Homo sapiens: one gene and its partner. The protein of the gene in region 1 purifies or fractionates together with the protein of each later gene. This does not show direct contact. Each region holds a gene or a part of one and is shown on either strand. Other genes may lie near its edges. The genes, in order: NID1 and EOLA1.

The links.
Region 2: the proteins of NID1 (region 1) and EOLA1 purify together in Homo sapiens (co-immunoprecipitation; one large-scale study listed by IntAct). This does not show direct contact.

Annotation. Positions count from the first base shown.
Region 1 is NC_000001.11:236,062,135-236,066,666, reverse strand, and holds the start of NID1 (nidogen-1 precursor), read left to right. Parts: upstream 1-1,576; 5' UTR 1,577-1,587; coding exon 1,588-1,812; intron 1,813-4,532. UniProt on the Homo sapiens protein: Sulfated glycoprotein widely distributed in basement membranes and tightly associated with laminin. Also binds to collagen IV and perlecan. It probably has a role in cell-extracellular matrix interactions.
Region 2 is NC_000023.11:149,539,584-149,543,853, reverse strand, and holds the start of EOLA1 (protein EOLA1), read right to left. Parts: upstream 2,843-4,270; 5' UTR 2,550-2,842; coding exon of another isoform or gene 2,511-2,549; exon of another isoform or gene 2,117-2,510; coding exon of another isoform or gene 2,029-2,116; intron 1,836-2,028; coding exon of another isoform or gene 1,769-1,835; intron 293-1,768; exon of another isoform or gene 1-292. UniProt on the Homo sapiens protein: May play a role in cell protection during the inflammatory response. In epithelial cells, negatively regulates IL6 production and apoptosis through the regulation of MT2A expression.

The DNA of each region.
Region 1 (4,532 bases):
GACCTTAGCAACATGACTTAACCTCTCTGGGCCTCTATGCCCCTTCTCTGTAAAACAGGGAAGGTCTGTTTCCTAGGGTTACTGTGAGTGCAAAATGAATGAATACTTGTAGAACACATGCTGTCTCTGATGGGTAATAAATGTTATTTCTGATGGCGAATGAATTCAAAAGAAAAAGACAAGTTCTCATGAGTAAATCAAAAGTGTTTTGCTTAGAAGGCATGTTTCCTTTGCTTTTTCTTCCTGTCTTTGCTGGTTCAGAACTCATGCCCCCTAAATTTTATACAGAATTTGCTGTTTTCTGAAAAATTATTATAAACTAGGTTCAAGGTCGTTACTTTTAGCTGCTGACAGGAAACGGGGACGTCCTGTTGACCGCTGATAGGTCTGACATCAAACATATCCAACTCCAGCTGTCCCAGATCCTCTTCCCTGACGTCAAAAGGCAGTACTGGTTTTCCAGTCCTCCAAGTGCAAACCCTTGAACTCAATTTTAACTTCGTTTCTTCTCCTCTTCAATGCCAATCTTATAATCAGGATTTGCTCCTTCTTTCATTTCAATGTTTTAGACTTGGTCCTCTAATAACTTACCTGTCTCTACTTTCACCCTAGTGCCAAAGTAACGATCAACCGATTATTCAGGATACCACTTAAATCGCTTATCTCCCTTTGTCAAGAACTTTCAATAGTTTCTTCTCCGAGTGACAGAGCGAATTCAAATTCCTAAATTTGTGATTCAAGGCTGTACTTCAACCGGTCCCTCCCCACATCCTCTGCTGGGGGATGGTGCCCTGAATAAACCCAGCTCGGTCCTCCACCTCCCTTCTCTGCCGCCTGATGACATCCCATTCCTTCCAGAGCACCCGGGTTGATTCCCGCCGTCCCACCTGCAGCTTTCCCCGCCAGTTTTTCCAGCCCTAATGTCTTTGATGACTTGGGGCCCCCATCTGACACTGGCTTGTGTTGTACACTGGTGACTTTGCCTCGGAGGGTGAGACCCCGTTTCCTGGCGAACCTCCACAATAGGGAGCACAGGATCAGGCACTCAAAAAACGCGCAATGAATGGGTGGATGAGCCCATGAACGTGTTGGTGGCTCTGTCCCTTGGCTGATTCCCAGCTCCCACCCCGTCTTCCTACCAGGGTCAAGCGAATTGGACCCCGGACGCGGCCGAGCGGCAATGGGGTGGGCGCCGTTCCTGAATCCGGAGCGTTTCCACGTCGCCGGCTCTCCACGACCCAACCCTAATCAGAGGACCACGGTGCGGGTCCCGCGCTCTGCTCCCCCTCCCGGAGGCGCCGTTCGCTGGGAGTCGGGCTGGTTTCGAGAATCGCAGGCACCGGCGCCCAAGGCGGGAGGTTCGGCTTCGCCCCTCGCCCTCCCCCTCGCGGCCATTGGGCTGCCCCGCGGCGCGCCCGCTGGACGGGGCGGGGCCCTCCGCTCTCCCCTCCGCTCCCCTCCCCTATTTCCCGGGGTGGGAACGCCGGGAGGCGGGAGGAGAGGGGGCTGCCAGGGGCGTCCGGTTACATCCCCGCCTTCCTCTGTCCTGGCCGCGGGACCGGGTTTGCGGGACCGCAGTTCGGGAACATGTTGGCCTCGAGCAGCCGGATCCGGGCTGCGTGGACGCGGGCGCTGCTGCTGCCGCTGCTGCTGGCGGGGCCTGTGGGCTGCCTGAGCCGCCAGGAGCTCTTTCCCTTCGGCCCCGGACAGGGGGACCTGGAGCTGGAGGACGGGGATGACTTCGTCTCTCCTGCCCTGGAGCTGAGTGGGGCGCTCCGCTTCTACGACAGATCCGACATCGACGCAGTCTACGTGAGTGAGCCCCGGGAGGGCGGGCGAGGGGCTGCAGGGCGCGGCGGGCCGGGGGCGCCCGTGGAGCCGGACGGACTTGGGCGTAGCAGGCGGGGACCCGGACCCGCTGGCCGCCGGGGCACCGGGCACGGCGCAGGGTCTCCCGCCTCTGCAGGGTCCGCGAAGGTCTTCCCGACCCGGTCCCTGCTATCCGAAGAGCGGGTCGCGGGGTCTGGGTGGCTCCGCGCGCCCCGGGCCGTGACCCCGGCACCCATGGACCCCGCGGAGCTTCCTCCCCGGCGGCTGTGGGCTGCATCGCCGCAGGGAGGTCAGTCCGCGTCCCTCGGCTGTCCAGTCCCTTCGGGGCTAGGACCTGGCCGGTCCCGGGTGGAGCCAGGTTCTCGCGCGGAGCCTCCGCAGGGCAAGAGCCGGAGCTGGATCGCAGTCTGCGCGCGGGCCCCGGGACTCTTGTGGCTGCGGGAGAGTTTCGCCGGCAGCCTCCTGTATTTGTGTGTGGACTCCGGATGTGTCTTGGCAGTGATGCTGCTTTCCAGTTGGGCTCGTTTCAGAGTCCAGAGTCCAGAGCGGGAAACACAGGGCTCCCAGTGATCCCATTTCCTGTGGCCAGGCATTGTCACCACGGAGGCCCCAAACGAGGAGCGGGACCAGATGACCTACAGCTCCCTGGATCCTCCCCGTGACTGGCCGGGCCTGGGGTCGCTGTCAACTTGTTGAAGTCCTTTCGTGCCGCTGCCTTCCTCGGCCGCCCACCATGTGGATTTCATATAAGGCTTGTGTGCATTCCAGAAGTGTGGGGGGTTGGCCGGGGGAAGGGGGTTGGAACTGCAAACGCAGCGGCTGCAGCCTGTCCTGCCCGTGAAATGGCTGTGCTCCCGGTCTGGCCTGGGAACACTGCGCCTTAGACAACACTCACGTGGAACTTGTAGGCTTTGCCTAAAACGAATGAGCCCTTCAAGTCTGGATCCACAAAGAGCCCTCCCCCATGTTGGTTGACTGCCCTGGCCCCTTTGCACACTGGTGAAGCCTGTGGATCCCTTTTCAGTATAACGCTTTTATTTTAGTTTTTAGAGAGACGAGGTCTTGCTCTGTTGCCCAGGCTGGGTGCAGCGGTGCGATCTTGGGTCACTGCAGCCTCCAACTCCTTGGCTCAAGCTGTCCTCTGGCCTCAGCCTCCTGAGTAGCTGGGACCACAGGCGAGTGTCACCATGCTGGGCAGTATAAAGTTTTAAATGCATAAAATAAAATCCACAAGATGACCAAGGAAGGCAATTATGTTGAAATACAGATCAAAATATTAAAAAAACACACATCTTATGCTCTTATGTACTATATATGCTTATATGCTTACTTTATTTATTTATTTATTTATTTATTTTTTTTTTTGAGACAGAGTCTCTCTCTATCCCCCAGCCTGGAGTTTAGTGGCACAATCTCAGCTCACTGCAACCTCCACCTCCTGGGTTCAAATGATTCTCCTGCCTCAGCCTCCTGAGTAGCTGGGATTACAGATGACTGCCACCACACTTGGCTAATTTTTGTATTTTAAGTAGAGACATGGTTTCACCATGTTGGCCAGGCTAGTCTTGAACTCCTGACCTCAGATGATCTGCCCACCTCAGCTTCCCAAAGTGCTGGGATTACAGGCATGAGCCACCATGCCTGGCCCAATATATGCTTACTTTTTTTTTTTTTTTTTTTTTTGAGATGAAGTCTCACTCTGTTGCACAAGCTGGAGTGCAGTGGCGAGATCTTGGCTCACTGTAACCTCCACCTCCCAGGTTCAAGCGATTTTCCTGCCTCAGCCTCCTGAGTAGGTGGGACTATAGGCACGCACCACCATGCCTGGCTAATTTTTGCATTTTTAGTATAGACGGGATTTCACCATGTTGACCAGGCTGGTCTTGAACTCCTGACCTCGTGATTCACCCACCTCCGCCTCCCAAAGTGCTGGGATTACAGGTGTGGGCCACCACGCCTGGCCTATATGCTTACTTTTAACAACATTAAATAACAAGGTGTAGCAGTGGATCCAAGGGCAGTTCAGGTAACGATTGAACTTTGAAGATCATGAGCAATATTCTGAGACACATGCAGCAACTATGATGTGATATGAAAATATCTGTGACTTCTATTAGTGACTGCTTTGTTGCCTGCATTCATAATTAAAGGAAATGCTAAATATCAGTTTTTGGTTATTCTTTTTTTTTTTTTTTTTTTTTTTGAGACAGAGTCTTGCTCTGTTGCCCAGGCTAGAGTACAGTGGCTCAATCTTAGCTCACCACAACCTCCGCCTCCCAGGTTCAAGAGATTCTCCTGCCTCAGCCTCCCGAGTAGCTGGGATTACAGGCGCGCACCACCATGCCTGGCTAATTTTGTATTTTTAGTAGAGGCGGGGTTTCTCCATGTTGGTCAGGCTGGTCTCTAACTCCTGACCTCAGGTGATCCGCCCGCCTTGGCCTCCCAAAGTGTTGGGATTACAGGCATGAGCCACCATGCCCGGCCATTAGAGATTTCTAAGTAGATGGCTGACACGATTTAACTTTAAAAGATTATCATTCTCTTCAACAAATAAATGGCATGGTGGGGAAAAAGAAGGAGGGAGACCTGGTGTGGATCAAAAGAGACTTCAGAGGCTTGCTGACCAAATGCAAGTGAGGACTTTGTTTCAGCCTGATTAAGACAAATCGGCCATAAAAAGGTGTCTTTGAGACAAACTGCAT
Region 2 (4,270 bases), on another chromosome or scaffold:
CTGGGACCCCCACGTTGCTCACCGTCCTGCTCTGAATCCCGTGGTGCAGGCCACCCCCCTTCAGACTCAGCCTTAGGTGGACAGGCCCGTACATACTCAGGACCCCAACCATCACCACCAAGTCCACCTCCCTTCCACCTCTGTGAGTGGCATCACCAGCTACAGCGTTCCTGCCCCAGACCTAGCTGCTCTCTGCCCTGCCTTTCTTTCCCACATCTGCGGCCCACATCCCGTGGCACTGTGTCCAAAACCGACATTGAATCTGATCCCTTTCCATAATCTCTATGGCCACAATCCCAATCCAATCCCCTAAAACCCCCTGCCTTCTGAAGAAGTCTCCTGATAGCACCCCCACCCCCCCCCAGCACTTGTCCTCTGCACTCTTGTGACCACACTGCCATCGGAATGATCTTGGTACAGGGACAATGAGATTATGTCACTCCTCTACTGAAACTTTTCAAGGGCTCCCTGCCCCAACTAGCACAGAATCCACACTTCCTCTCAGGGCACTCAAGGTCCCTCCTGATCTGGTTTCCCACCCCAGCCACGTCCTCTCCTCTCCCCTTTATTCACCACCCTGAAGCCACACAGGCCTTCCATCCCCTGAGGGAACATGCCAAGCTTGTTTCTACCTCAGAGCCTTTGTCAGTTGTGATGGGTTGCATTGTGTCCTCTTAAAATGCGTATGTTGAAGTCCTAAACCCCAGCACCTCAAAATGTGGCCTTATATATAAAAACAGAGTCATTACAGAGGCAATCAAGTGAGACTGAAGCCATCAGGGCGGACCCGCATCCAATGTGGCTGGCGTCCTTATGAAAAGGGGGATTTGAGAGACAGTCACGCACACAGGGAGAACACCATGAGAAGATAAACGCAGAGATAAGGGAGATGCTTCTACAAGCTAATGAGTGCCAAAGATTGCCGGCCAGCCGCCTGCAGCTAAGAGAAAGGGACAGACCAGATTGTCTTTCACAGCCCACAGAACAAACGAACCTGGCCACCACTTTGATTTCAGACTTCCATCCTCCAGAACTGCGAGACAATGATTGTCTGTTCTTTAAGCCAGCCCTTTTATGGTCCTTTGTTTCAGCCATCTTGGCAAACTGCTGTTCCCAACACATCTGCACAGGCTAGGGCACGAGTTTGCCATTTGACAGCACATCAAGCCCATTCTTTCCACCTGACAATCTTCATCTACCTTGTTTTTCACTGCCTGGGTGATATCCCATTGTTGGTCGTCTCATAATTTGCCTGACCATTCCTCCACTGATGGAGAGTTACAAGTTGCTTCCCACTTTTGCCACTAGAAATGACATTACCTCTAACACTCGCTGTGTGAAGACATGCTGAAGGAAATGCCTCGGCCGCCTGGCACGCCCATCTAAGATGCTGATATCTGCCAGCAAATGACTTTCCACAAAGACTCACCCGTGTACCCTCCACCAACCCATCCATGGTGCCATTTCCTCACACACTTGTGGCCCCTGAGCATGATTATTCTTCTGATGAGTGACCAAAGATAACCAGGTTCCTTGGTTCTGGATTACTTCTGATGGAGGCTGAATGTCCCCCACAGGGCCTGGCCACTTCCATCGGGATAAATGGCTACAGTGAATGTTTGCCTCTTTTCTGCCGCCCAGTTTCTTAGCCAACCCTTTTCTCGTCATCACCACAAAATCACAACAGACGCCAACTGTGTGTATGTGGAATCCCTAGTAGGAACTGATGTAACTGAAAAGGCAAGAAGGGGGTTGAGTCCCCTCCTACCTGGTGCTGCAGAGAGTACCTGCTTTACGGCCAGAGGAGGAAACACTCTTCCACTTAGCTTCTTTACCTGCACAACAAGGAAGATAAAGAGGAAAGGTCATTAAGTGCAAGACAGCAAAGCTGGTTAATGGCCCTAAGAAGGTCATGTACTTAGCAGGCATTGGAAACCAAGAAGAGCTGGGAGGCCTGGTCTTATCAGTAACACACATGTGCACATCACAGTTTGGTTCTGCTAATCACAGCAGTGGGACCCTCCGCACCTGTCTGGGTCAAGGACCACAGGGTGCACCAGCCCGCAGGGCAGAAAATCATTTCACCATGTTGAGCAGCATTCTTGCAGCCAAGCATGCTCCATTCGAAGGGAGAAAAATGACACTTCCCCTCCCATTGTCACGGGGCGAGTGTTTGGGACTCTAAATCCCATTGTCCTCAGCTTAATTCTGGGTAGGTCACGCTGAGCACGGCGCCACAGGCCACAGAGCTGTGCACCGCCCGGCCTCAGGTCCAGGCGAGCTCACAGCAGAAGGGCCAACGGGAGGCAGGGAAGACCGGACTGAGGTGGGGCCGCTGTGTGTGGAGCAGTACACGGGCTTTCTACTCGCAGACGCACGTCGCGGGTACACGCGCTTAGAAGGAGCGGAGCCGAGACCCTGCCGACAGCAGGGGACAGGAAAAGGCGCCTCGGTCGCGCCCCGCACGAGTTCCCAGCCCCACATCCAGGGAAACCCCAGCCCTCAGGTACCGTCCGCAAGAAGGCTGAGCACACAGGCTCCCGCAGCATGGGCCCTGGCACCTGTCAGCCCCGGCAGGTCTCACGGCCTCCGGAACCATGGACCCTGCGAGTCGTGGGTGTCTAGGGCCGACTCCGGCTTTTCGCCACAGGAATGAACAGTCCTCTGCTTCCCCGAGACCCAGCGAGGCCACCGGAGCCAGGACGATGGGCTCCCAAGCAAGGAGACGTGGGCCGCTGTGAGAAGAGGGAGCGCCTGGCTAGTGTCCAGGCTGCAAGGTCGTTGCCGCTAACTCCGGGAAACCAGTGGCCAGTGACAGGTGTTAGCGGTCTATAACTCTTCCGCTTTCATACAGCTCCCGTCATCCCTTTCACGAAGAACGTACGTGGGCGCGCAATCACGCATGTATGCACACCACGCACGTACGCGGGAGGCACGTACTCAGCCATGCATATAGACAGCAAACATTATGAATCTCGCATTCTCGAAGACACGCACTGACGACATCACGCACGTACGCACGCCCTGGCTGCTAGGAGACGCTATTCTCTTTACCTGGCCCTGATGCGCGCCAGCCAACCAGGCCAAGGCCAGGGGACCTCGAGACCGGCAGCCTCGACGAAGAACCGGAAGGAGGAAAAGGAACGGGAGGGAGGAAGAGTAAGTGGAAGGGTGGGACGAGGACACCAGGCAGGAGTTTTGGGCCCAGAGCTGCTATACCAGCAGGGAGGAGCTGGGAGAAACCGCTGGGGAGGGGGTGGAGGCGGGGCTGAGAGGAGGAGGGCGGAGCTGGGGGAGGGGCCGAGCGGGACTGACAGAAACAATTGGGGGCTGGGTTGAGGGCGGGGCTGAGATAAGAGGCGGGGTGTGGGGCAGGGCCGGGCGGGGCTGAGAGAAACCATTGTGGGCAGGGCCGTGGGAGAGCTGAGCGAGGAGAAGCTGCAGGAAGAGCTCGCGGACTCTTGAGAATCAGCAGGGGGAGGCAGGTGTCCGCTGAGAGAAGGAGGGAGGGGGAGAAAGAAATCACTGGGAGGGGCTGGGGGCGGGGTTTTTAAAGCAGCTGCGTGAGAAGTAGGGCGGGGCTGGGAGAGGCGGGGCTCTGGGGGGGCTGAGAATGCTGGGGAAGGTTTGGGGGCGGGGCTTTGGAGGCAGCCACAGGAGAAGCAGGTCGGGGCTGCGGGCGGGGCTCGGGGTGGGGCGGGGCTGAGAGAAACTGCTGGGGAGGGGGCCGAGGGCGGGGCTTTGGGAGCAGCCGCGGGAGAAGCGGGGCGGGGCAGGGAGGGGAGGGGCGGGGCAGGGAGGGGCGGGGCTGAGAGAAACTGCTGGCTGAGGTCGGGGCTTTGGAAGCAGCCCCGCGAAGAGCAGGGCGGGGCAATGGGAGAACTGAGCGAGGAGCAGCTGCGGGAGGACCCCTCGGACTCCTGAGAACCAGCTTAGGGGAGCGGGGGCTTGGGGAGGTGTAGGGTGGAATCACGAGAAAGCTCTGTGGGAGGGCCTGGTGCACAGCTCAGCTGCAGCGTGGAGCTGAGGGAAAGCCGGGCGTTCCTGGAGGAGGAGCAGGGCGGGGCTGTGGCAAAGAGGTGTGGGAGCAGATGGGGCGGGGCTGCGGGAAATTGCTGGAGAAGGGGGAGCCAAGCTGGAGTAAGGCTGGCGGGTGAGAATGGTGGGGGAGGAGCTAGTGCAGAGCTGGAGGAAAGAGCTGAAAGGTGCTGGGGTGGGCAGAGGGGTAGGAGAAGCGGGACGGGGCTAGAGGAGGCGGAGCTGGGACTGG